2 linked regions of the Homo sapiens genome follow. The protein of the gene in region 1 purifies or fractionates together with the protein of each later gene. This does not show direct contact. Each region holds a gene or a part of one and is shown on either strand. Other genes may lie near its edges. The genes, in order: SYT5 and PALM2AKAP2.

Region 1 (10,825 bases):
TAATGCTGGCCTCTTCTCCTAGATGACTGGTCCCGGGTGCCCCTGAAGCCCATCCATGAGGAGCCAGGCTCTGACTACATCAATGCCAGCTTCATGCCCGTAAGGTCGTGGTTGGGATTGAAAGGGTGCCCAGCACGCCTGGAGAGATAAGAGCTCGGGGATCAACTAAAGGCCCCCCTGACCCGCCTGCCTTCCTCAACCAGGGTCTCTGGAGCCCCCAGGAGTTCATTGCAACCCAGGGTCCCCTGCCACAGACAGTGGGTGACTTCTGGCGCCTGGTGTGGGAACAGCAGAGCCACACCCTGGTCATGCTGACCAACTGCATGGAGGCCGGCCGGGTGAGAGATCTGAGTCCTGGGTGCTGACTGGGTGCAGGACCCCGCCCCGAACACTCATCCAATGTAGACCCCACACCCAGACCTTACGGATTCCTCCAGGGTAACCCCAGGCGTCTTCAGTGTAGACCTGTTCCCCACTCTCCCCCCAGCCCATCTGCTGGTTCACATTTGGGGCCTAAAGCAGACCCCACAGACCTGGGTAAGAGGAGTTGTGTTCTCTGACCCCTCCTCCTCCCCCAGGTGAAGTGTGAGCATTACTGGCCTCTGGACTCGCAGCCCTGCACCCATGGGCACCTGCGGGTAACCCTGGTAGGTGAGGAAGTGATGGAGAACTGGACGGTGCGGGAACTGCTGCTCCTCCAGGTGCGTGTGTCCAGCCCCGTCCTGGCCCTCAGCCTTCCCCTGTGACATATGCCATGCATCCAGGACCCTCCACCAACTCCAACCTTCCACCCACTCCTCTGAGGAGCTGCAGTGTGCCCCAGGGAACCCGCTCCTGGTGCTAGAAGCCAGGTCCTCCCTACATTCATCTCCAGAGCCTGTGAGTGCTCCCTCCTTCCAGGTGGAGGAGCAGAAGACACTGTCTGTGCGCCAATTCCACTACCAGGCCTGGCCGGATCACGGCGTTCCCTCCTCCCCAGACACCTTGCTGGCTTTCTGGAGGATGCTTCGGCAGTGGCTGGATCAGACCATGGAGGGAGGCCCACCCATTGTGCACTGCAGGTGGGGACCAGCCCAGGACCCTCTCCCTTGAGAGAACCGCTCCCTTGGGGCTCAGACAGTTGTGTTAGACGGGACCCTGGGAACGTACAGGGGAGGTGAAGAGGGAGAGAAGGAGGAGGTGGATGTGGAAGATAAAGGGGGGCGTGAAGCAGATTAAGAAAAGAAAGGGGATAAGGATGAAAAGATGGGAACGAAAGATGAAAAGGCAGGCCAGGAGCGGTGGCTCATGCCTGTAAATCCTAGCACTTTGGGAGGCCAAGGCGGGTGGATCACTTGAGTTCAGGAGTCTGAGAACAGCTTGGCCAACATACAAACCTTGTCTCTACTAAACATACAAAAATTAGCCGGGTGTCGTGGCGGGCACCTGTAATCCCAGCTACTCAGGAGGCTGAGGCAGGAGAATCACTTGAACCCGGGAGGCAGAGGTTGCAGTGAGCTGAGGTCGCACCACTGCACTCCAGCCTGGGTGACTCTGTCTCGATTAAAAAAAAAAGGAAAAAAAGAAAGATGAAAAGGTAAAGGCAGAGAAGGTTGAATGCAGAAGAGAAGGGAGAAAGGATGAAGCCACAGGATGGGGATGTGGCCACAGATTCTGAGAAACACTGGAGACACTTCCCTGTGCTGGAGTGCAGGGCCTCCCCCATCAACTGCTTCCCTGATATTTATTTTATTTTATTTATTTTATTTTATTTTATTATTTTATTTTATTTTATTTGAGATGGAGTCTCTCCCTGTCGCCCAGGGTGGAGTGCAATGGCGCAATCTCAGCTCACTGCAACCTCTGCCTCCCGAGTTCAAGCAATTCTCCTGTCTCAGCCTCCCGAGTAGCTGGGATTACAGCTGCTCACCACCACACCCAGCTAATTTTTGTATTTTTAGTAGAGATGGGGTTTCACCATGTTGGCCAGGCTGGTCTCGAACTCCTGACCTCGTGATCCGTCTGCCTCTGCCTCCCAAAGTGCTGAGATGACAGGCGTGAGCCACCGCACCTGACCCTTTCCTGATATTTATGCTGAAGTCCCGTAGGTCAGATTTCACCTAACGGTAACTATTAGGGAGATGAGGAAGAGTAACAGCCCCTGAGACTGGGGCTCTGGTTTCAGTCACAGTGAACATTTACACAGTTCTACTGCTCCTCATGACAGTCTCATGGCAAAAGGGTGTCCTCCCCATTTTATTTTATTTTATTTTATTTATTTATTTGTTTGTTTATTTTGGAGGCAGAGTTTCGCTCTTGTTGCCCAGGCTGGAGTGCAGTGGCATGATCTCGGCTCACTGCAACCTCTGCCTCCTGGGTTCAAGCAATTCTCCTGCCTCAGCCTCCTGAGTAGCTGGGATTACAGGCATGTGCCACCACGCCCGGCTAATTTTGTATTTTTAGTAGACACGGGGTTTCTCCATGTTGGTCAGGCTGGTCTCAAACTCCCAACCTCAAGTGATCCGACCACCTCGGCCTCCCAAAGTGCTGGGATTACAGGCGTGAACCACTGTGCCCGGCAATGTCCTCCCCATTTTAGAGCTGAGTGGATGTCATCACATCATTCCATTAGTGTGCATATCCAGAAGCATATCTAGATCAGCCAAAGCAACAGAGACACTGAAGAGATTAGTAGCTTCCAGGCCCTGGAGGGTGACAGGCAATAGGGAGAGACGGCCTAATGGGCGTGGTGTCTGCTTTAGGGGTGATGAAAGTGTTTTGCAAGTAGATAGAGGTGGGGGCTGCACAGCGTTGTGAGTGTGACAAATTGCTCACGTTCAAATAGCTATTTTTTTTTGTGGAGACAGAGTCTCGCTATGTCACCCAGGCTGGAGTGCAACGGTGCGATCTCCGCTCACTGCAACCTCCACCTCCCAAGTTCAAGCAATTCTCCTGCCTCAGCCTCTTGAGTAGCTGGGAATACAGGTGCCTGCCACCCCGCCTGGCTAATTTTGGTATTTTTAGTGGAGATGAGGTTTCTTCATGTTGGCCAGGCTGGTCTCCAACGCCTGACCTCCGGTGATCCGCCTGCTTCAGCCTCCCAAAGTGCTGGGATTACAGGCGTGAGCCAGTGCGCCCAGCTTAAAATAGCTAATTTATTTATTTATTTATTTTTGTGGGGGACGGAATCTTGCTCTGTCGCCCAGGCTGGGAGTGCAGTGATGTGATCTCGGCTCACTGCAATCTCCGCCTCCCGGGTTCAAGTGATTCCCTTGCCTCAGCCTCTCGAGTAGCTGGGACTACAGGCGCCCGCCACCACACCCGGGTAATTTTTTTTTTTTTTTGGTACTTTAGTAGAGACGGGGTTTCACCATATTGGCCAGGATGGTCTCAATCTCCTGACCTCGTGATCCACCCACCTCAGCCTCCCAAAGTGCTGGGATTACAGGCGTGAGCCACTGTGCCCAGCCTAAAATAGCTAATTTTTTCACTGGGCACAGTAGCTCATGCCTGTAATCCCAGCACTTTGGGGGGCTGAGGTGGGAGGATCACTTGAGTCCAGGAGTTTGAGACCAGCCTGGGCAACATGGCAAGACCCCGTCTCTATTAAAAAGTTAATAAGTTAGTCAGATGCAGTGGTGCATGCCTGTGATCCAAGCTACTCAGGAGGCTGAGACAGGAGGATCACTTGAGCCCAGGAGGTCAAGGGTGCAGTGAGCCGAGATCATGCCACTGCACTTCAGCCTTCGTGACAGAGAGAGATCCTGTCTCAAACAAAACAAAAGACTAATTTTTGTGTTTAAAGGAATTACTAAATGATTGGCTGGAGAGTTCCTCTTCCTGTATTTGAACCCCGGCTCTGCCACTTATTAGCTGAGTGGCCTGGGGAATGGGACTTCACCTCACTCAGCCTCCATTTCCCCATTTGTACAATGGAGCTAGTACATCCGACTTCTTAGGTTTGGGAGGAGTGAAGAAGGCCCATCAGGCACTTAGAACAGAGCCTAACAGATGGAAGGAACTCCAGGCAGTTTTGTTGTTGTTGTTGTTGTTGTTTTTGAGATGGGAGTTTTGCTCTTGTCGCCCAGGCTGGAGTGCAGTGGTGTGATCTTGGCTCACTGCAACCTCCACCTCCTGGGTTCAAGCGATTCTTCGCCTCAGCCTCCCAAGTAGCTGGGATTACAGGCATGCGCCACCATACCCGGCTAATTTTTGCATTTTTAGAAGAGACGGTTTTGCCAGGTTGGCCAGGCTGGTCTGGAACTCCTGACCTTGGGTGATCCACCGGCCTCAGCCTCCCAAAGTGCTGGGATTACAGGTGTGAGCAGGCATAGTTATTGTCATCATTCAAACACAGATCCCTCCAATCAGCCATGACCCCGGACCCTCACACTCCTGCCCCTTGGTCTGACCCTTCCCTTGTTCTGCCTAGTGCTGGCGTGGGTCGCACAGGAACCCTCATTGCCCTGGACGTCCTGCTCCGGCAGCTGCAGTCCGAGGGTCTCCTTGGGCCCTTCAGCTTTGTAAGGAAGATGAGAGAGAGTCGGCCGTTGATGGTGCAGACTGAGGTGAGGCAGTCCCTCAGCAACACAGGACGGGAGGCAGTGGGACGAGGGACCCTGGGGCTCCACGCAGCTCAGACCTGGGGGGACGCCTCTCACTCCCGTGCCTGCTTCCCAGGCTCAGTACGTATTCCTGCATCAGTGCATCCTGCGGTTCCTCCAACAGTCAGCCCAGGCCCCAGCCGAGAAGGAAGTCCCGTATGAGGATGTCGAAAACCTCATCTACGAGAACGTGGCCGCCATCCAGGCCCACAAGTTGGAGGTCTAAGTGACGAGGGGGCTGGGTCGGCAGCCCAGGCATCCTCAAGCTCTGGACACCCACTTGAGCCCAGATTCCTGGAAGAGCAGAGGGCTGGGCTCCCAGACTCCTGGGTGCTGTGGGAGGAGGGGGCTGGTATCCCAAACTCTGGTTTCCCCAGGAGAGAGTGGTCTGGTGGGCTTCAGATGAGTCCTATGGGAGCTGGGGATCTGGATTCCTGGTTCCCTGAAGGAGGAGAGGGATGATAGCTTGGATTCCCTAGGTCTTTCCAGGATGCAGAAAGAAACAGGCTGGGGCCTGGATTCTGAGGCAGGAAGGAATTTGGGTCTGGAGTTCTGGCTACTTGAGGACCAAAGGCAGGAAGGATCCTGCCTTGATTTTACTTCAGAAACCAAATCAGTCTTCTATAATCTGGGGTCGGAGGGAGTCCCTGTGCCCAAGGTCTCTCTGCACCCCACCATCCACATGTATTTTTCCTTCTATCCCATAATTTATTAAATCACTGTTCTCCCCAGAGACAGTTGTCCCATGGATTTCTGGGTCTGGAAATAATATTGGATTGGGAGTAGGGATGGGTTCCTGGTATCTAGGGATCGAGGCGAACGTCCAGGAGGGGACTAGAGGGACCCACACATTTGCACATGAAAAAATGTAGGTTTGGGTGGTTGAGTCTCTCAGAGAAGGCAGTGTCCAGACGTCTGTGTCCAGGGTCTGGGCAGTATGGACAGGGCTCGCTGGAGCTAGGTGCTTGGGGACTTGCCTTCTGAGCTTTTCTTTTACTCTTCTCTGTTGTTGTTGTTGTTGTTTTGTTCTGTTTTTGTTTTTGTTTTTGAGACATGGTCTTGCTCTGTTGCCCAGACTGGAGTGCAGTGGCTCACTGCAGCCTTGACCTCCTGGGCCCAGGTGATCTTCCCACCTCAGCCTCTAGAGTAGCTGCCATCACAAGTGCGCACCACCACGCTGGCTCATTTTTGTAGAGACGGGATTTTGCTATGTTGCCCAGGCTGGTCTCCAGCTCCTGGGCTCAAGCATTCCTCCTGCTTCGGCCTCCCAAAGTGCTGAGGTTACAGGTATGAGCCACCGCACTGGCCGCCTCCTGGGACTGGTGTTAGGGGAACTTAGAGGGCGATGTCTGGGGGCTGATAGCTGGGGACTTTGATGCTGAACCCTGCAGAGTCTGGGTCTCCAATGGGGGTCTGGGGTCTCCTAGGTCCTAGGACTGAGTATCCTGGCATGCCGTTCTTTGGGCTATACAGGGTGTGTGTCGTGTGTGTTGGGGCGGGAGGAGTGGAGTGGTCTGGACGGCCAACGACTGGACCAGAAGGCAGAAAATGCTAAAGCACCAGGATAAACATCTGTGGGCGTCATCGAGGTTCCCGGGTGGAGGCGGGAGGAGGGGCGGGGCAGGGCTTTCCGCCTACCCGAGACCAAATACGGGCACACACAATACACACCACACACGCGCGCACACGCACACGGGCACACACGCGCGCACGGGATCCTGCTCCGCTCCGCGGCTCCCCCGCCCCGGAGAGCTCCGCGATCAGCACCCGGGACAGCGCCACCGCCCACGTGCAGGGGGTGGGGTCCGGGCGGGGCTGGCGCCTCGGCGTCTCCCGGGAGTGTCCCGTCCAGCCGCCGAGCAGGTAGGAGCTGCTGGGACCCCCGCCCTCAGCCCATCCGCATCCGCATCCCTAGAGGAAAGGGGTGTGCGAGTGGGGGCTGGGGCACTGGGGAGACAACCAGAGGGAGGGCAGCAGCCTGAAGCGGAGAGACAGGGATCTGGGGACGCGAGACAGGTATGGAGAAGACAAAGAGCCGAGGGCGGGGAGTGGGGCGCAGGCGGAGGGGAGAGGGAGAGACCCTGGAGACAGAGGCCAGGCGATAGGGAAGAGAGACAGGCGGGTTGGGGAGGCAGACACAGGGAAGACGCCTATGTGGGGTCAAGAGGCAGCGTGGAGACCGAGGCGGTCACGAGAGCAGCACGGATGCGTGGAGAGACCAACAGGCCAAGAAGGATGAGGGGGCTCAGCACAGGCACCGGGCAGCCCCCGACCCGCCCTCCAGCAAAATTGGGGAGAGGGAAGAGGGAACCTGCGTCTCAGCTCCCAGGACCAGGTGCGGAGGGAGCAGTCGGCTGTGGGCGCTCGGACCACAGGCTGCCCGCTCCCCACCTCGCGGGACCTCAGGATCCCAGTCGGGCTATTGGGGGGTTCCCAGGCACCGGTGGGCCCCGGAGCGAGCCTGCCCCGCCGGGACTCCGCGTCTGTGCGTCAGCCCCGCCCGTTGTCCTGGCAACAACCCGTTGCCCGGGCAACCAGCTTTGCTCTCACCCCGCTTGAGAGGAGCCCGGCTGTTGCTCTGGGCAACGCGGTCTGCTGGTTCCCACGTCTGCCTTCGCCCGCTTCCGGTTCAGACCCTGCGGAGGGGCGAGGACGAGGCAGAAGTCAGCGGGATGCCTGTGGGGCCGTGGAGGAAGAGGGTATCCCTTTAGGATGGAACTAGGTCCTGGACACCCCCTCTCAAGTGCGGGGAGGCTGATACTACAACTCCCAGCATGACTCGCGGTGGCTGTCCGGTTTCTGCGCGGCTGTTCGCGCAAAGGCCTCATGGGAGTTGGAGTTCTTTGTTGTGCGTGGGGCTCAAAGGACGTCTGGGGTGGGAATGGGGGACTAGGGTGCTTGAGTGTCTCTGCAGAAAAGACTCCAGGACCCCGCCACCATGTTCCCGGAGCCCCCAACCCCGGGGCCTCCATCGCCCGACACGCCTCCCGACTCCAGTCGCATCAGCCACGGCCCAGGTGAGCAAGACCCGGGGGTGGGGGGCCGAGCAGAGAGAAAGCCTGGCCAGGATTCCGAGGGGCGGGATTCGGACGGGTGTACTCGGGCAGGCGGGCTGGAAAATCCGGCTGGGATCCCGGGTCGTCATCCTGGACTGGAATGCGAACGAAATGGGGTAAAAGGAAGGAACAGATTTGCAAAAAAAAAAAAAAAAAAAAAAAAAAAAAAATCGAAACCGGATCAAGGGGTGTTGCATGGAATGGGATCTTAGAATTGGAAGGTCCACCTAGCTCTTCTTTTACAGATAAGGAAACAGGCCCGATGAGGAGCAGGGCTTCTTGTAAAAGCATCAGGAGTTGAGCAGAAATGGGGGGCGGGGTCGGGTAAGGAAAGGCAGAACTAACAAGCAAGCAAATCCAGATGGTGTCAGCCTGGGTTGGGGCATCGAATCTCTCTATAGGCCACATTAGGTGGAAGAAAAACACAGGAAGAAATGCAATGAAAATGGCTGGAGGGAAAAGGAGGCCAGCATTCCAGCTTCCACGTGTAATCAGGACTGAATCAGCCTGCGTGCTGCCCAGGCCTCAATGTGTGTTGTCTCCACCCCTCTGCAGTGCCCCCCTGGGCCCTGGCCACCATCGTGCTGGTCTCAGGCCTCCTCATCTTCAGCTGCTGTTTCTGTCTCTACCGGAAGAGCTGTCGGAGGCGGACAGGCAAGAAGAGCCAGGCCCAAGCCCAGGTCCACCTTCAGGAAGTGAAGGGGCTGGGCCAGAGTTACATAGACAAGGTGTGGCCCAGCCCAGCCCCTCCACCTGGCCCCTTCCCGCACCCTGCTCCTCTCAATGGCCCAGCTGGTCCCAGTCCCTGCTCCCTTCTGTCCTATAGGAACCCACCTTACTGGCTCATCCTCCCTGTGTGTCTAGCCCTCAACTGGACTCTGGGGACCCAGAGATGGAACAGAACTAGTTGCTATTCCCAAGAACTTCCCAGTCTGGTGGGAGAGTCAGGCACTGACACAGACACTCACCACACAGGGTAATATGTGCCATACTACAGGGTCTCATAGGAGCACAGAAAAGGCATCCCACTGTATAGAAACCTACAGAAACATATAAATATTTGGCTCTGGGCCGGGTGCGGTGGCTCACGCCTGTAATCCTAGCACTTGGGAGGCTGAGGTGGACAGATTGCCTGAGGTCATGAATTCAAGACTAGCCTGGGCAACATGATGAAACCCTGTCTCTACTAAAAATACAAAAGCCAGCCATGGTGGTGTGGTATAATCCCAGCTACTCGAGAGGCTGAGGCACTGAAACCGGGAGGTGGAGGCTGCAGTGAGCTGTGATCGCGCCACTGCACTCCAGCCTGGGTGACAGAGCGAGACTCTGTCTCCAATAAATAGATAAATAAATAAATGGCTCTGAAAGCTGAAAACCAGCTTTGTGCCAGAATACTTTAAAATATGCTGATTTTTTTCAGAAAATGGGACATATTTACAGTAGGAAAAAGTTTAAAACAGAGGGTCAGACAGAGGAGGCTTCGTGGTGGAGGTGACTTCTGCACTGAGACCTGAGGGACAGAGTTAACTGAGACCAGAGAGAAGGACATTCTAGTCCAAGTTGGAGCATGTGTTGAGGCCCCATATCCAGATTCAGGCCCCATATCCAGATTCTGAGGCTTATTTGGGGAACAAAGAGTCATTTCTCACAATAGCTGCACTCTGGAGTGAAGTGTCTGGAGAACTCAGCAGTATCCATGTCATGAAGGTGATGAAGGCTACAAATATGTTTTGAGCATGAGAGGGACAGGGTCAGATGGTGTTAGGATGACTCCTCTGGAACCCTGTGTAGGACAGATCTGCGGCGAGGGATCCAGGGACGAGGCCAGTGCAGCAGCAGCCTGGAGAGGATAAAAGACATTTGCATTGGATGAGGCCGTTGGAATGGAAAGTGGTCACTGCAGGGTCTGAAAATTAAGTCTCTCAGTGCAGAGTGCAGTGGTTGCCTGGGAGCCAGACAGCCCTAGGTTTCCAACCAAGAAGGACCATTTCCTGGTTGTGTGACCTTGGAGAACTCACTGTCCCTCTCTGAGCCTCAAGTCTGTGGTCACTAACTTGGTATTTCCCCTCCTTCCTTCTCAATAAGGAGCTGTTCAATTAGCATCCGTAAAGGATGCTATTTAGGGTCCTGGTGTCCAGCCCCATCCCTGTCCCTTAAACCAGTGATGTTCAAAGACCGTCTGCAGCAGAATCACACTGGGTACTTGTTGAAATGCAAATTCTGGCACTAGCACCTGACCTATCAAGTCAGAATCCCTGAAGAGGTGACCTCAGACATTTTGCCACAGGATTCAGGGGAATTCAGGTTCACATTGAATTTTAAGAATTGCTGGCCTAGGTTAAGGAGACACCTTCTGCTTTTTCATTCAACTTTAGAATGGCAAGTACACAGTAAATATGCCATTTCTCCTCCATGTTTTGCTGTGCTAAGATCACAAGTAAACATGGCAGTTTGGACTAGCACCCCAGTACATCCATTAGCATGTGAAATAAAACCTGCATTATTCCTGTGGGCAATGGGACACTATCAGCACTTGTTTTAATCTAAGCATGACAAGCACATGTCTAGTTCCTGCCCATAGCAGACACCACTAATCAAACCTTCACAAACATACTGCATCTGTGTTACCACGTCTATTTCCTGCCTGTGGCAGACAGCACTAGTCAAATACTGAATCTGCTTAGCCTGTGAGAGCTCAGGTATAGCCCAAGGGACCTGTGAGCCTCCCTTGGCTTCTGAGCCTGATGGATACTGCTATCAGGGGAAGACTTCACCCACCCTTACCCCTGGCTCCTTAAGGTGCAGCCAGAAGTAGAGGAGCTGGAGCCAGCACCATCCGGGCCAGGGCAGCAGGTGGCAGACAAGCATGAGCTAGGACGACTGCAGTACTCCCTGGATTATGACTTCCAGAGTGGCCAGGTGGGTGTGGAGGAAGGGGAAGCTTTGGAGGGAGGATCCCGGGGGTTCCAACCCCTTCTGAAAGGAGCCATGGAAGGGAGGCTAAGACTAGTGTTCCCCACCTCCCCCACTGTGCCTGGGCCCTGCAGCTGCTGGTGGGCATTCTGCAAGCAATGGGATTGGCAGCCTTGGATCTTGGTGGCTCCTCGGACCCCTATGTGCGGGTCTACCTGCTGCCGGACAAACGGAGGCGGTACGAGACCAAGGTGCATCGGCAGACGCTGAACC
Region 2 (12,176 bases), on another chromosome or scaffold:
GAGGAGGGGCTGTAACATGAACCAATTTCTGAAATCCAGTTGTCCTCCTTCCTTGAGCACATATTAGATCATTTCTTGTTCTCTGGAAAGGATAAAACCAGTTGGTCACAAAACATTTCTTGAAAATCCATTTATGTGTATAGAAAGCACTCTTATCCTTCCAACACTTGCCCTATCTCCCTATAAACATGCTACTATTTAAAATCAAAGCATACAATCGCTTCTTGGCCTTTGGCTAAGATTAAGTGTAATAAAATCAAAGAGTATTTTCAAAGAGTATTTTCACCCTTTGGTGAAACACAGAGAAAGTAGGTTTTGAACTTACATGAGAATGTGGCATGAATGTGAAGAGGATGGGCTTGCCAGATAAAATATGGAATGTCCTGTTAAATGTGAATTTCAGATCAACAACAAATAATATTTTAATATAAATATGTCCCCATGGAATCACTGGGCATCCTATACATTTAGTTGCTAAATGGAACAACCCTAGTAGGGGATAGTGAAAAGACGACCCAGGCTGGAGCAGAAGGTATGTATTAGGAAGAAGCAAAAACTTGTTATATAGGTATGGTAGGGTGCTCATTATGAAACAGTTCCCCACCAATGGCTGGGAACCCAAGTTTCATGTTCTGGTCAACCCTCCCACCCTCAACTGATTTTTAGGGTCTTCAAAGTCAGGGTATAAGGTAGCCCCAAGCAGAATGACTTAGATTCCAGTTAGAGTTTTAAAATCAGCCTTCCTGGGAGACTTTTGGGGGTGATGGAACTGTTCTGTTGCCTGAGTATACCAGTGATTGCACAAATCTACGCATGTGTTCAAATTGAGAGAGCTGTACATCAAGAAAGTCAATTTTAGTGCTGGGAGCAATGGCACATGCCTATAATCCCAGCTACTTAGGAAGCTGAGGTGGAAGGATCGCTTGAGCCCAAGAGTTCAGGACCAACCTGAGCAACATAGCGAGACCCAGTCTTCCAAATTAAAGAATTTAATAAGTCTATTTTTCTCTTCATTCATTTTCATTTTTTTTAAAGAGTGCTTGTAGTTTTTACTTCTTACAGAGAACTGATGAGTTCATCCAGCATGCTGGATAAGGAACTGATTTAAGTAGCAGCCCTGACTCTGACCCAAGACTATGGTTTTCTTATAGGGTATGGATCCCACCAAGGTGCCCAACATACATAAGTGTATCTACAACTCACATAGCTTTATACTGTACCAACCCCCCAGCCCCCATTCCCACATACTATTGGTTTTGTAATTAAATAAAATAGGTTGTGACATGCAGACGTGGAAAACTGGTGGCCCAGGCTGGGGGTAGAGGGGGAGGGTCATTGAGACAGGGAACAAATCCAGCCTACACTGTGTTAAAATCTGTGTTATGTTTGGTTTGGCCCATACAGTATTTAAACTGTTGTGAGCATTTAAACATCAACAGACTTCCTTCAAAATTGGATTTCCAGGTTCTCTTGGAAAAGCAGGAGACCCTGGGCTCAAATTCCCACACAGTGCCCATCAGTTGGAGTTGAGCACTCTCTGTCCCCTCAGGAGTCTGCCCTCTCTTGGCTACCACAGTCCCAAAAGCTCAGCCAAGTCAACCTGGTACCTGTGCACATCTGAGATCTCACCCCCCTAACATAAGGCATTCAGCAGGGTGGCTGGCACATGGACCCTCTCCGGAACTGGGAGCCCTTCCCTCCAACCCCTTAAGAAAAGCTACATGATGAAGTACCATCTTTCCCTTGCTTTCTGAAGCCTGGGGTGCCCTATCTCCCTATAGGGGAGAGGGCGCACTTCTGCTGGAGGAAGGCTGGAAAAGGCTCCCTCCACTGCCATGCCAGGCTGCTTCCTGCTTTTCTCTGTGGACCCAGGCTGAGAGGGGATGAGAGATAGAACCATCCAGAGGCAAAAGCAGGAACATGTCAAGTAGAAAGAGATGACGGTGGAAAGAGAGAAAGGCAGGTGATTAAGCAGTTTACATTACTTTCAACTTTGCCTCCTCTTGTCTGTATTTTTCAGAGTCAATATTTTCTCTTCATTCTCCCTCATCGCATCCAATACTGATCTGACATATATCATTCTCACTCCAGTGTAAATAAGGATGGGGAGTAAACAGGCTACTAGTGTCTTATCTCTAGTCACCAGTAAGATTGGAAAGTACATTCTACTGCTGCCTCCAGGACCTCCTCTGTCTTCTGACCCATCTCCGCCAAACCTATCTCATCTATTGTTAAATATCCTTCGGGTTTTGTGGTGAGTTTTATTTGATTAACAACACTGAATTTTGAACACACATGCTCAGACATCAATGTTCATGAACAAGACTGCCTGCATACCACCTGGAAAAGAAAAATAGGCCATGCAGGTTACAGGAGCACTGCTATCCTAGAGTATGCTTTTGCTTACCTGGATAAGCAGGACTTCCTTTTAGCATCACTCATATTAGCCTTAAGCTTTTTAGATATGTCTCACAGTTCCACTGGAGCAAGGACATTTTCAAAGCACTTCCCACCCCAGTAGAAACAGCACGTGATATCAGCCCAAGATGTATGTCAAGTCACACCACAAAAACTCAGTGTTTAAGGCCAATCAGGTGCCTGGGGAAAGCCAGCTGACTGAGTTCATGCCACCCAGCCAAGAGGCACCTTTCTTAAATCCCGGCCTCTCTCTTTCTCATGTGACATGCAGGACACACACACTATCACAGTTGCCCAAATCCTAGAGCCCCATTTGGTATTTATTGGCCTCAAAGTTGTCGACATTAGCACTCAAACACAGACAAAGAAAATCCCCTGCCTGCCACCAAAGGGGTTAAGTTTTCAAGCATGTTTTTCTCTTAAGAATAACATTTTTTGGTAACCCTCAAGGTTTTAAGTTTCAGCCCTGAATTTAAAAATAAAGTGAATACTTAGATGACTGGTTATAATTTAGCAGAGGGGGGAAAAATCCCACCCACCTAGAATAGTAAGTAAACCAGTATAATTTTTTTTTTCCAGGAAAAAAGTAAGAGTAGGTTTTACAAATGCCTTCAAGATATTTGGTATTGCAAAGCTGTCTAGAGCCTAAAAGCCTGCAGGGTAATGAAATAGGCTTCCACAAGGGAAATGATGGACAGGAAGATGTGTTCCGACGTCTGGCCCACAGCTTTTTCATCTACAGCTGGGGCTTTTATCTTGGGCCTCACATGGCTTTTCTTTCCCCTTCGATCTTATGCAAAAGAAAGGTACAGATTCTCTATTCTTTTCTTCTAGCTAAACTTATATGATCCTATAGAAACAGTGATACTAGGGTCAAAGAGTAATCCAAAGTATTTTTAATATATGTTCAAGCATTATGTAAATAGGGTGTAGTCTTGTCTCTGTGTCTGTCAGTCTGTCTCCCTTTCTGTGTGTATTTAATAATCTCCTTTTGAGCATTTTAATTCAACAAGAGACTAATGAGAAATACTGAGATAATAATTAACCAAGGGCACTGTAGCTCCAACACGCACTGCCCCACACCACCCTCTGCTCCTGCCGGCATTTCCTGTCAGAAATAGATCTCAGCTGTGTGGTCTTCTCCCAAACCCAGAGCACTTATGAGCAACCTTTCCTCTACAAACTCCGCCATGCTGTGTGGCCCATCCCCTACAGTCTCCACGTTCTCTTAGGCCTCATCCTGTACAGTGCAGCCTCTGTGCTTTGTGTTTTAAGATATACAAGAGATCCGGTGAGGCAGAATCCTTCCAAAAATGAAGGGTTAGCTCAAAAAATGCATGGTACAAAGACAAGTGAGGGAAGCCTGCATGACATCCTTGGAAGAATAAACTTGTCCTTGATATGCCAATAACAAGTCATACTTGCATATACACAGACTGGCTTCATAAAATATTAACCATCATTAAGTAAATGAACATCAGTTGCTGCTTCTCCTGGCATCCTATTGGAGTTGCCCACGTGAGAAGCAATCACATCGCGAATTAGCACCTGCAGGCTGGAGAAGGGGCCACCAGGCTTGATGGGCTGATCTGCTATTTGATGTCTTCATCTATACACCATCATATGTATGGCAAGCCTCTCTCAATGGGGCTGTCATGGTGTTGCTGGATATCTTCTCTACTGCATGACTTCTTATCTCACTGAGGTGTCCTCTAAGGCCTCCCCAAGGGAATTTTGTAGCCCATAGTTTCAGTCAGTCAATCCCAGGCAAACTCTCTCAACCTGCCCAGCCAATCCTGGGCAAACCTTCCAAACCGGTGTTGTCAAGTAACCAACAGATATCTCACTTTATTTAAATAGATTAAAGCAAGTTCCCGAGATAAGCAAAGACCTCTTCTTGATTAGCCAGTGTAATGTGAGAAGGACACAGTTACACAGGGTGTCACTCTTGCCCAGTCTGGAGTGCAGTGGCAGTGATCATAGCTCACTGCAGCCTTGAACTCCTGGGCTTAAGCGATCTTCCCACCTCAGCCTCCCAAGTAGCTGGGACTATGGGAGTGCGCCACCGCACCCGGCTTGCATGACTTCCAAACTGGGCTATGTTTAAGGCTCTCATTAATCAAGACTAAATTTGGCCTTTTATTCTATTTCACCTCTTCAGAATATACACACCACACAAACTCCTGGGCATATCACAATGGGCATGTGATGCACATCAGGACCCAGGTCATAATCTTCCTTTACTATTGATCTCCTACACTTCACCAGTCGTTTTCAAAGTGTGTTCCCCAGAATAGCAGTTGCAGCTGGGAACTTCTTAGAAATACAAATTCTCAGGCCACATCACCCTAGACCTACAGAATTAGACACTCTGGGAGTGTGCTCTTGCAATCTGTGTTTTAAGGAACCCTCCAGGTGATCCTAATGCACTAACGTTTGAGAATTACTGTTCTATACCATATATGACAAAAACATCGGTCAAATGGCAGTTGCTGCTACTATGAGTCCTGAGCCCAGCAGAATCTCCCTACAATGTCCATTACTTGAGGCTAATAATAAATCAGGATCAACTCAAACATCCTGACTGACATGAGTTAGGCTTGGGCTTCATATCAGGTTTGCATTTCAGATTTGCATACCTTGAGTATAGGTTCTTAAAGATTCTTTTCTAATAAGAGGAATTTCCCAAATTAAGGTGCTGACTTGATGTGGTTTAGATTTGTTTTGGTTGAGTTAGAGAGCAATTACCTATCTAGATGTGAGTATTCTGAGTTTCAATAATGTCAGTGATTTGCAAGGGCTCATTTAATGTCAAAAGATATCGCAAATAAGCACCATTTATCCAATGATCCAAACATCTGGACACCAAACTCACAAAGCTCTGGTGAAAATGCAACCCGATATTACAACATTATGAAATATCTCAGGGGTGCTGATAGGCTTACTTCACAGTATCCTTATGAAATCCAAATAAATCAATGCATAAGGAAAGCATCCTGTAAAGTTCAAAGCTCTGTCTATATCTAAAGGTCACAAAATGTCGGCCTCTTGATCAAAAGGAATTGTGTTGTGACTGCCAATCTTTTTAAAGTTTTTAAACTAGTTAATACTGTTCTTTTTTAAGTGGGAGATCTCACATGTTAAAAATCAGATTTCTGGCTTCTCTTGAAAATGAGTTGATGTAACAACATAAGACCCACGTTCTCACAAGGCATAAATTAACTGCATCTTAACTGAGAGGTGGCATCTGCTCTCTAGGGACCAATACTTTCGACTCAATCTGTGTCCCTCATTTACATTGCATGCTGGCCCCCTGACCTGTTGAGTTTACTACTCCTGCTTACTACAAATAATCCATTTTTTATTATTAATACTATCTTCATGCATTGAAAACTCAGGAGTTACAACATTTATCTGATTTCCTAGTATTTATCTAATTTCCTAGTTTGACAAAAATGCTGTGGCTAACAAAATTCTCCTTTCACTCTTTGTGTTCACTTTCTGTTTAAAGATGCATAAGTTATGATTTGTTGGTTTGCTTATTATAAATAGGAAAGTTTGTGAGTGCTTAATGCATGCTGTCTCTGAGCATTTCCCAAGAAACCTCTAAAAGAACCATCACAACAAGACACTGAAGTGGGTATGATCATTAGCCCCATCTTACAGGTGAGGAAACCAAGGTACAGTGACATCATACAGATACCAACGGAAAGGCCAGGACTTGCGCCAGGTCTTCCTGACACCAAAATCCATGCTGGTAACTACCCCACCACAATGACAGCCCTTGGGACCACCGTCTCTGTGCATCAATGTCCATCTGCTGTCTCAGTCAATTTCATGCCACAGAATGACCAACTCTTACTGCCAAGCAAGTTCATCAACATTCCCAAATGGGATCAGTGGTGAAATGTGGAGAGTTCAAAGGGGCCAGCAGTGACCCCAAAGCATTGAGTAGCCCCCAAAGAAATATAGAAACAATTCTACTGGGCCCTGGTTTTCCTTTAAATATTGACAAACTATAACCCACAACCCCCCTCACTTAGCTTTTTCTATGATGACTTTTTTTTTCCATGATAACTGCTCTATTTCTCAGAGCATTTTAAAGTTTGTCAGAGTAGCTGCTCTTTGTCCCAATAAGCTGAAGACTGAAATACTCAGAGGTACAAATAAGTAGCAGGGAGGTGTGTGACCCTTATGCATGCTGGGTAAGGCCTGCCTTGGCACTCCCAGACACAGCAATGACCCTGCATGGGCCCAAAGTGTCACCTATCCAGTGGGCAGCTTCACAGACTCAGCCAAGTTGAACCCTTCCTCAGCACCAATATACCACGCAAATGATTTTTTAGGCCTTAACATGGAATTTTAGAAGCAGGGTGTCATCTGCATCTCTGAGATATAAGATAACAGATGAATGACCAGGATCTTAAATTCTCCAGTTCTCTGACAGCTGCATACCAATAACACAAGTCCACAAGGAACATGGATGGGGATGGTCCCCACATGAATCACAGTGCCTGTTTCTACAGGGCTTGGGTTTGAGTCTCTAACCCCTCTGAGGGATCCTTGGGAAGCTGGACTGGATAGTATGTAAATCATTGCAAGGACTTTTTGCCCATGCTGTGCAGGTCGGCCTAAAAGGCCTGGACCAAAAGCAGGGTGGTGGCCTCCTTGGCCACTGGCCCCACACTCCAAGCCTGGTACTCAAGGCTGTAATGCTCCCAGGCAAGAAAAGGCATGGAGAGGCGAATCCAACGAAAAGCCAATGAGCACTTCTCTGTAAGCCCACGGCACAGCCAGCCTAGGCCAACAGCGTATACCCAGGTCTATGCAGGACTGAGAATAGAATCAGATGAAAGCCATAAACTCACTAGCTGACCCCTTGGTGAGAATTTCAAGAATGAAAGAGGCCGAAAGTGAAATCCTAACAAGGGCATATTCCATAGAGACACATCCAAGCTCACTCCTCTCCTCCCAGCCAGAAGATTTTAGTCCAGCAGGATCTTAGTTGCAGTTTCAGCCCGTATCAAAGCACCCTTCCAAGGCTGGATGTACCACTAACACAAGTGATACGGTTTTGCTGTGTCCCCACCCAAATCTCATCTTGAATTCCCACGTGTTGTGGGAGGGACATGGTAGGAGGTAATTGAATCACGGGGACATGTCTTTCCCATGCTGTTCTTGTGATAGTGAATCAGTCTCACGAGATCTGATGGTTTTATAAAGGGGAGTTTCCCTGCACAAGCTCTCATTTCCAGTCTGTTGCCATGTGAGATGTGCCTTTCACCTTCTGCCATGATTGTGAGGCCTCCCCAGCCACGTGGAACTATAAGTCCATTAAACCTCTTTTTCCTTATAAATTACCCAGTCTCGGGTATGTCTTTATCAGCACGGTGAAAACGGACTAATACAAGAATTGGGAGTCAGGAGAGGCTGGGATTTACTACAACTCTTCCACCTCTATCTGTGTAAGCTTGGATAGCTCTGAATACTCACCTGTAAAGCGTATAAGATTTGCTCTACACACCTCAGGAAGAAGGTAGCATATACAAGGTTTTCATAAATTATAAAGTACTGCACAAATGCAAAGATCATTTTTATTACTTCACAGAGTGGGTTCTAATTAAATGACAAAATTCCCTAAAGAACAGCATAGGTTAGATTAGCATTTCCTATTTCCGCACATATATAAACATACTCATGCTGGTCCCTGGTGTAGCCTGAGCCTTGTCCACGTGGCTCTTAGGAGTTTCACCCAAGACAATTTATATAACATTTACTTATTTTCACTCATGCCCAAAGAAAACTATCTTCCTCTCCAATGTGCAGACATAACAGCACCCTCCCACAAGGTTAGTTTCCACTGAGACACAACAGCTTCTTCCCCATGGGAATGTTACTCGTTCCATTAAATTTTATGTTGGGTATTTCTATGCACTGAATCCAGGCTTGAAAGACTCTCAAAAGGAGGTAGGCCTCCTGGCTTGTCTCAAGCTTTCCCATTGCAATGGAATCAGTCTGTGGCTCACACTCAGGCTGCTGAGACCACCTGCACAGTGTGCTCATGGGAAAAGTGCGAGACGCTGCCGCCATCTTGGGTGGCAGCTCAGGGCAGCAGTCAAAGCAAAGGCTCCAATGGCCTGCTGCGGGCAGCATTCAAATCCTGGCTTTGATACTATCAGTTTAATGTTAGACCAGTTCTAGAACCTCCTCACCTATAAAATATGAGTAATACTGTAGTGCCTACCTCATAAGCTTCTTATTAGGATTCAATGAGATAATACATGCTGAAAAGCATTTCAGTGTTCACTCTGAGTTTGTGTCTTTAGCTACTGACTTAACTTCTTCATGCTTTTGCCTTTCCCTTTCTCACACTAAATGTCCTGAATAAATAATAATCAAATAACGAATAAACAAATGCCTCCTGGTAATTGGGAAGGTTATGATGTTATTTTATATTTTATTTTACCCAATTTTCAGGACTTACTCTAATGTCTTCTTTTTGGGGAATTGTTTCACAACTCTGAGATTGGTTTACATGTTCCTCCTGGATGCTCATTTTCATAGTACTCCTGGATAGTAACTGCTTATGTGCTTTTCTATTTCTTCCATTAGACTATAAATAACGTTAGGTGAAAAACAAAAAGTATTTCACACCGTGCCTTTCTGAATGAACAATATTCAATAAATGGCAATTGTTGTTATTAGTCCCTGGGATTACCATTCTCACTCATGCTGTTTCAGAGGCTTTTTACCATGTTCTAAATGTAAAGTTTGGGGAGTATCCCTACAGAAGAAAGGAGCATGTGAGTGTAGAGATCATTGTCAAAGATGGACTTGCTCTTCTTTTGGCAGAAATTAGGATAAGAGTCATCTTTTCTCATTGATTAGTTCCTGGATCCAAATGGAAGATTCCATTAAAGCACTGTAGTTTCTAAGTATTTAATTCAGTTTTGTTGGTGGGGGCGGATATTCCACAGATGTTCATGTGACAAGCATCTTAGGTATCAGGACATCTGTCCTTCAAGAAATTATGTGCAAAAGGTGAAATAAAGGTTTCAGCCTCAGGCAGCTGAAACCTGGGGACACCAACTTTTCAGTGTTGCCAATACCTTCCCAGAGGAGGCAATCTGTAAATACCTACTGAACAAATGGATGAATGAATCCTCAAGTCATATCTCTGCCTCTGTCTAAAGCAGTTAGAGAAAGTGATGCTGGGCAGGGCCCTGACTTTCAGTCAGTTGAAGGAAGGGATTAAAAAAGAGCTGTTCAGACCAAGTATAGTGGCTCATGTCTCTAAACTCAGTGCTTTGGGAGGCAGAGGTGGGAGGATCACATGAGGTCAGGAGTTCCAGACCAGCCTGGGCAACATGGCGAAACCCCATCTCTACAAAAAATTTAAAAATTAGCTGGGCATGGTGGCACATGCCTGTAATCCCAGCTACTGGGGAGGCTGAGGTGGGAGGATGGTTTCAGGATGCAGCGAGCTGTCATGGCAGCACTCCAGCCTGGGTGACAGAGTGAGACTCTGTCTAAAAAAAAAAAAAAGTCATTAATACACATTCCACTTCAGAGATGTTGCTTCTGACCCCCCACAGGACAAGACAGCAATACAGACAAAAGCTAAGGGCTCTGCTCAACACCATCCAATGACAGCTACCTGCCAGGTGCTTCACCTCCATCCTAACTAAACCTTACAACCAGCCCAGGAGGTAGAACTCATGAACCCATTCTACAGATGAAGGAGCTGAGACCCAGACTAAAGACTGCCCAAGGCCCTGCAGACTGGAATCCCAGTCGATTCTCTGCCTCTGAGAGAGAAGCCCAAGTAAGTGAAGATGTGAGGACCTATTGTCTTCTTCCCTCACATCTCCAGAGAGACTTCAGGAGTGCTAGGTTCTGGGGGCAGGCTTGTGATCTCCTCAGGGTCCCCTGAGAACTCCAGGAAAGTGATGAGAGAGTCAGGGTTTGCAGAATTCAGAAGAGTAGGCACTAGACCAAAGCATAGCATAAAACCATTTACCGATGTGGCCATAAGTCCCCCCACCCAACTCCCTCTGTCTCTTAATTGGCTCTCTCTCTCACACACACATACACACACACACACACACACACACACACACACAAACAAACACACGCTGTTAGCAAATCTGTCCTGACAACATCATACAGTCATCCCTCAGTATCCTCAGAGAATTGGTTTCAGGACCCCCTTGGATACCAAAATCAAAGGATGCTCAAGTCCCTATAAAATAGCATGGTATTTGCATATAACCTACTCACATCCTCCCACATACATTAATCATTTTCAGATTATTTATAATACCTAATACACTGTAAATGCGACGTAAACAGTTGATTATACTGTATTATTTAGGGAATGGTGACAAGAAAAAGTCTGTACATGTTCAGTACAGACTCAGCTATCTATTATTTTTTCCAATAGTTTCAATCCAAGATTGACTGAAGGCGTGGATATGGAACCCATGAATAGGGAGGGCAGACTGTATTAGGTGCACATTCATGAGAATAATCAACAGCTCCCCAGATACACAGGACAAACTCAATTCTTCAATAACTGAAGAGGCACAAGTGAGTATTTGTGTGTATTCTTATATGCTCAAGAGAATTCCCAAAGATTTGCCTAGATCTTTCTTGGAAAATCGACTTGGCCTCTGCTGGGATTACTCAACCGCACTTGGAAAAGGGTACCCCAGTGTTAGCAGCTACTGGCTCCATGTTTGGAAAGCAAGTCCTTTCATGGAGTTCAGCTGTTCCTCAGGCATCCAGTAAAGCTGGTTGTGCAAAGGCAGAAAATGTGACAACTGTTGGAAGCCTTCAGCAGCAGCCAATGGGAACAGCCACTGCATCAACAGTTAAAGCAGCCTATTATCCAGTTCACACAAAACACCCACCAGCTACATGGCACCATTAACTCAATATCACCATTCTTATCAAGTTCATGACACACTGGCCATGCTGCCTTGCCACCAACTTTAGAAACCACAAATAACTTCACAAACCATCAAAATACACATGCACAGGGGGAAAGAGAAAGAAGAAAAAAACAACCTTTCTGAGTTCAGAGCACCACGTTCAAAGATTACCTAATAGGCAAACCATGGCATTTCAATATTGCCAGCAAACATCTCTCTCACTTCAGTGGTGAAGTCTCCAAGACATTTCAGATTTGAGGCGTTTGAGAAAGAGGGTCTCAGAGCCTTGGAGACCATGTCAAATGCTTCTAAAAAAGGAAGGGTCTGTGTGCATTTTCCCAATGAAGAATCTGTCCAAAAAGGTTTTGGAAAACGCTTTAATATACTTTGGTTCCAAAACATTACACACTATTTCTCCAACAAATTTATATGTGTTTCCAGAGAACTTCCGAACTGAAAAACACAAATGTATTTAGGTGGAAGAATGTCTGGAGATTCTTTTATGCCAATATGTTAACGGACCTTCTTTTTTAATTGTTACTATTTCATACGGCAGCAGTAATCATTCCCTCATCCTCGAAGGAAATATATAATCCAGCTGTGGTGGCTCCAGTAAAAATACCACATCTGTGGATCATTGGCAACACTGTGTTAAGATTGCTCAAATCTAGGCAGTCTCAGAGAGTTCTTTTTTAAACCCAAGATGCACATGGGTACACTTTTCTGAAAGTGCCTACGAACTTTGCCAAAACTGACTACTCCTTTGTAGGCTGAAAATAGGTTTTCAGATACTCCACACCATAAGAAGGAGGCTCTCATGGAATA

The links.
Region 2: the proteins of SYT5 (region 1) and PALM2AKAP2 purify together in Homo sapiens (affinity purification with mass spectrometry; 3 studies listed by BioGRID and IntAct, with this or other methods). This does not show direct contact.

Annotation. Positions count from the first base shown.
Region 1 is NC_000019.10:55,175,738-55,186,562, reverse strand, and holds the start of SYT5 (synaptotagmin-5), read left to right. Parts: upstream 1-6,273; 5' UTR 6,274-6,446; exon of another isoform or gene 6,447-6,599; intron 6,600-7,214; exon of another isoform or gene 7,215-7,357; coding exon of another isoform or gene 7,358-7,521; coding exon 7,522-7,600; intron 7,601-8,194; coding exon 8,195-8,367; intron 8,368-10,438; coding exon 10,439-10,558; intron 10,559-10,686; coding exon 10,687-10,825. Other genes in the region: PTPRH (receptor-type tyrosine-protein phosphatase H), read left to right, coding at 23-99, 204-338, 579-701, 901-1,061, 4,412-4,547, 4,660-4,809. UniProt on the Homo sapiens protein: May be involved in Ca(2+)-dependent exocytosis of secretory vesicles through Ca(2+) and phospholipid binding to the C2 domain or may serve as Ca(2+) sensors in the process of vesicular trafficking and exocytosis.
Region 2 is NC_000009.12:109,781,110-109,793,285, reverse strand, and holds part of PALM2AKAP2 (PALM2-AKAP2 protein isoform 3 (PALM2-AKAP2)), read right to left. Parts: intron 1-12,176. UniProt on the Homo sapiens protein: Binds to regulatory subunit (RII) of protein kinase A. May be involved in establishing polarity in signaling systems or in integrating PKA-RII isoforms with downstream effectors to capture, amplify and focus diffuse, trans-cellular signals carried by cAMP.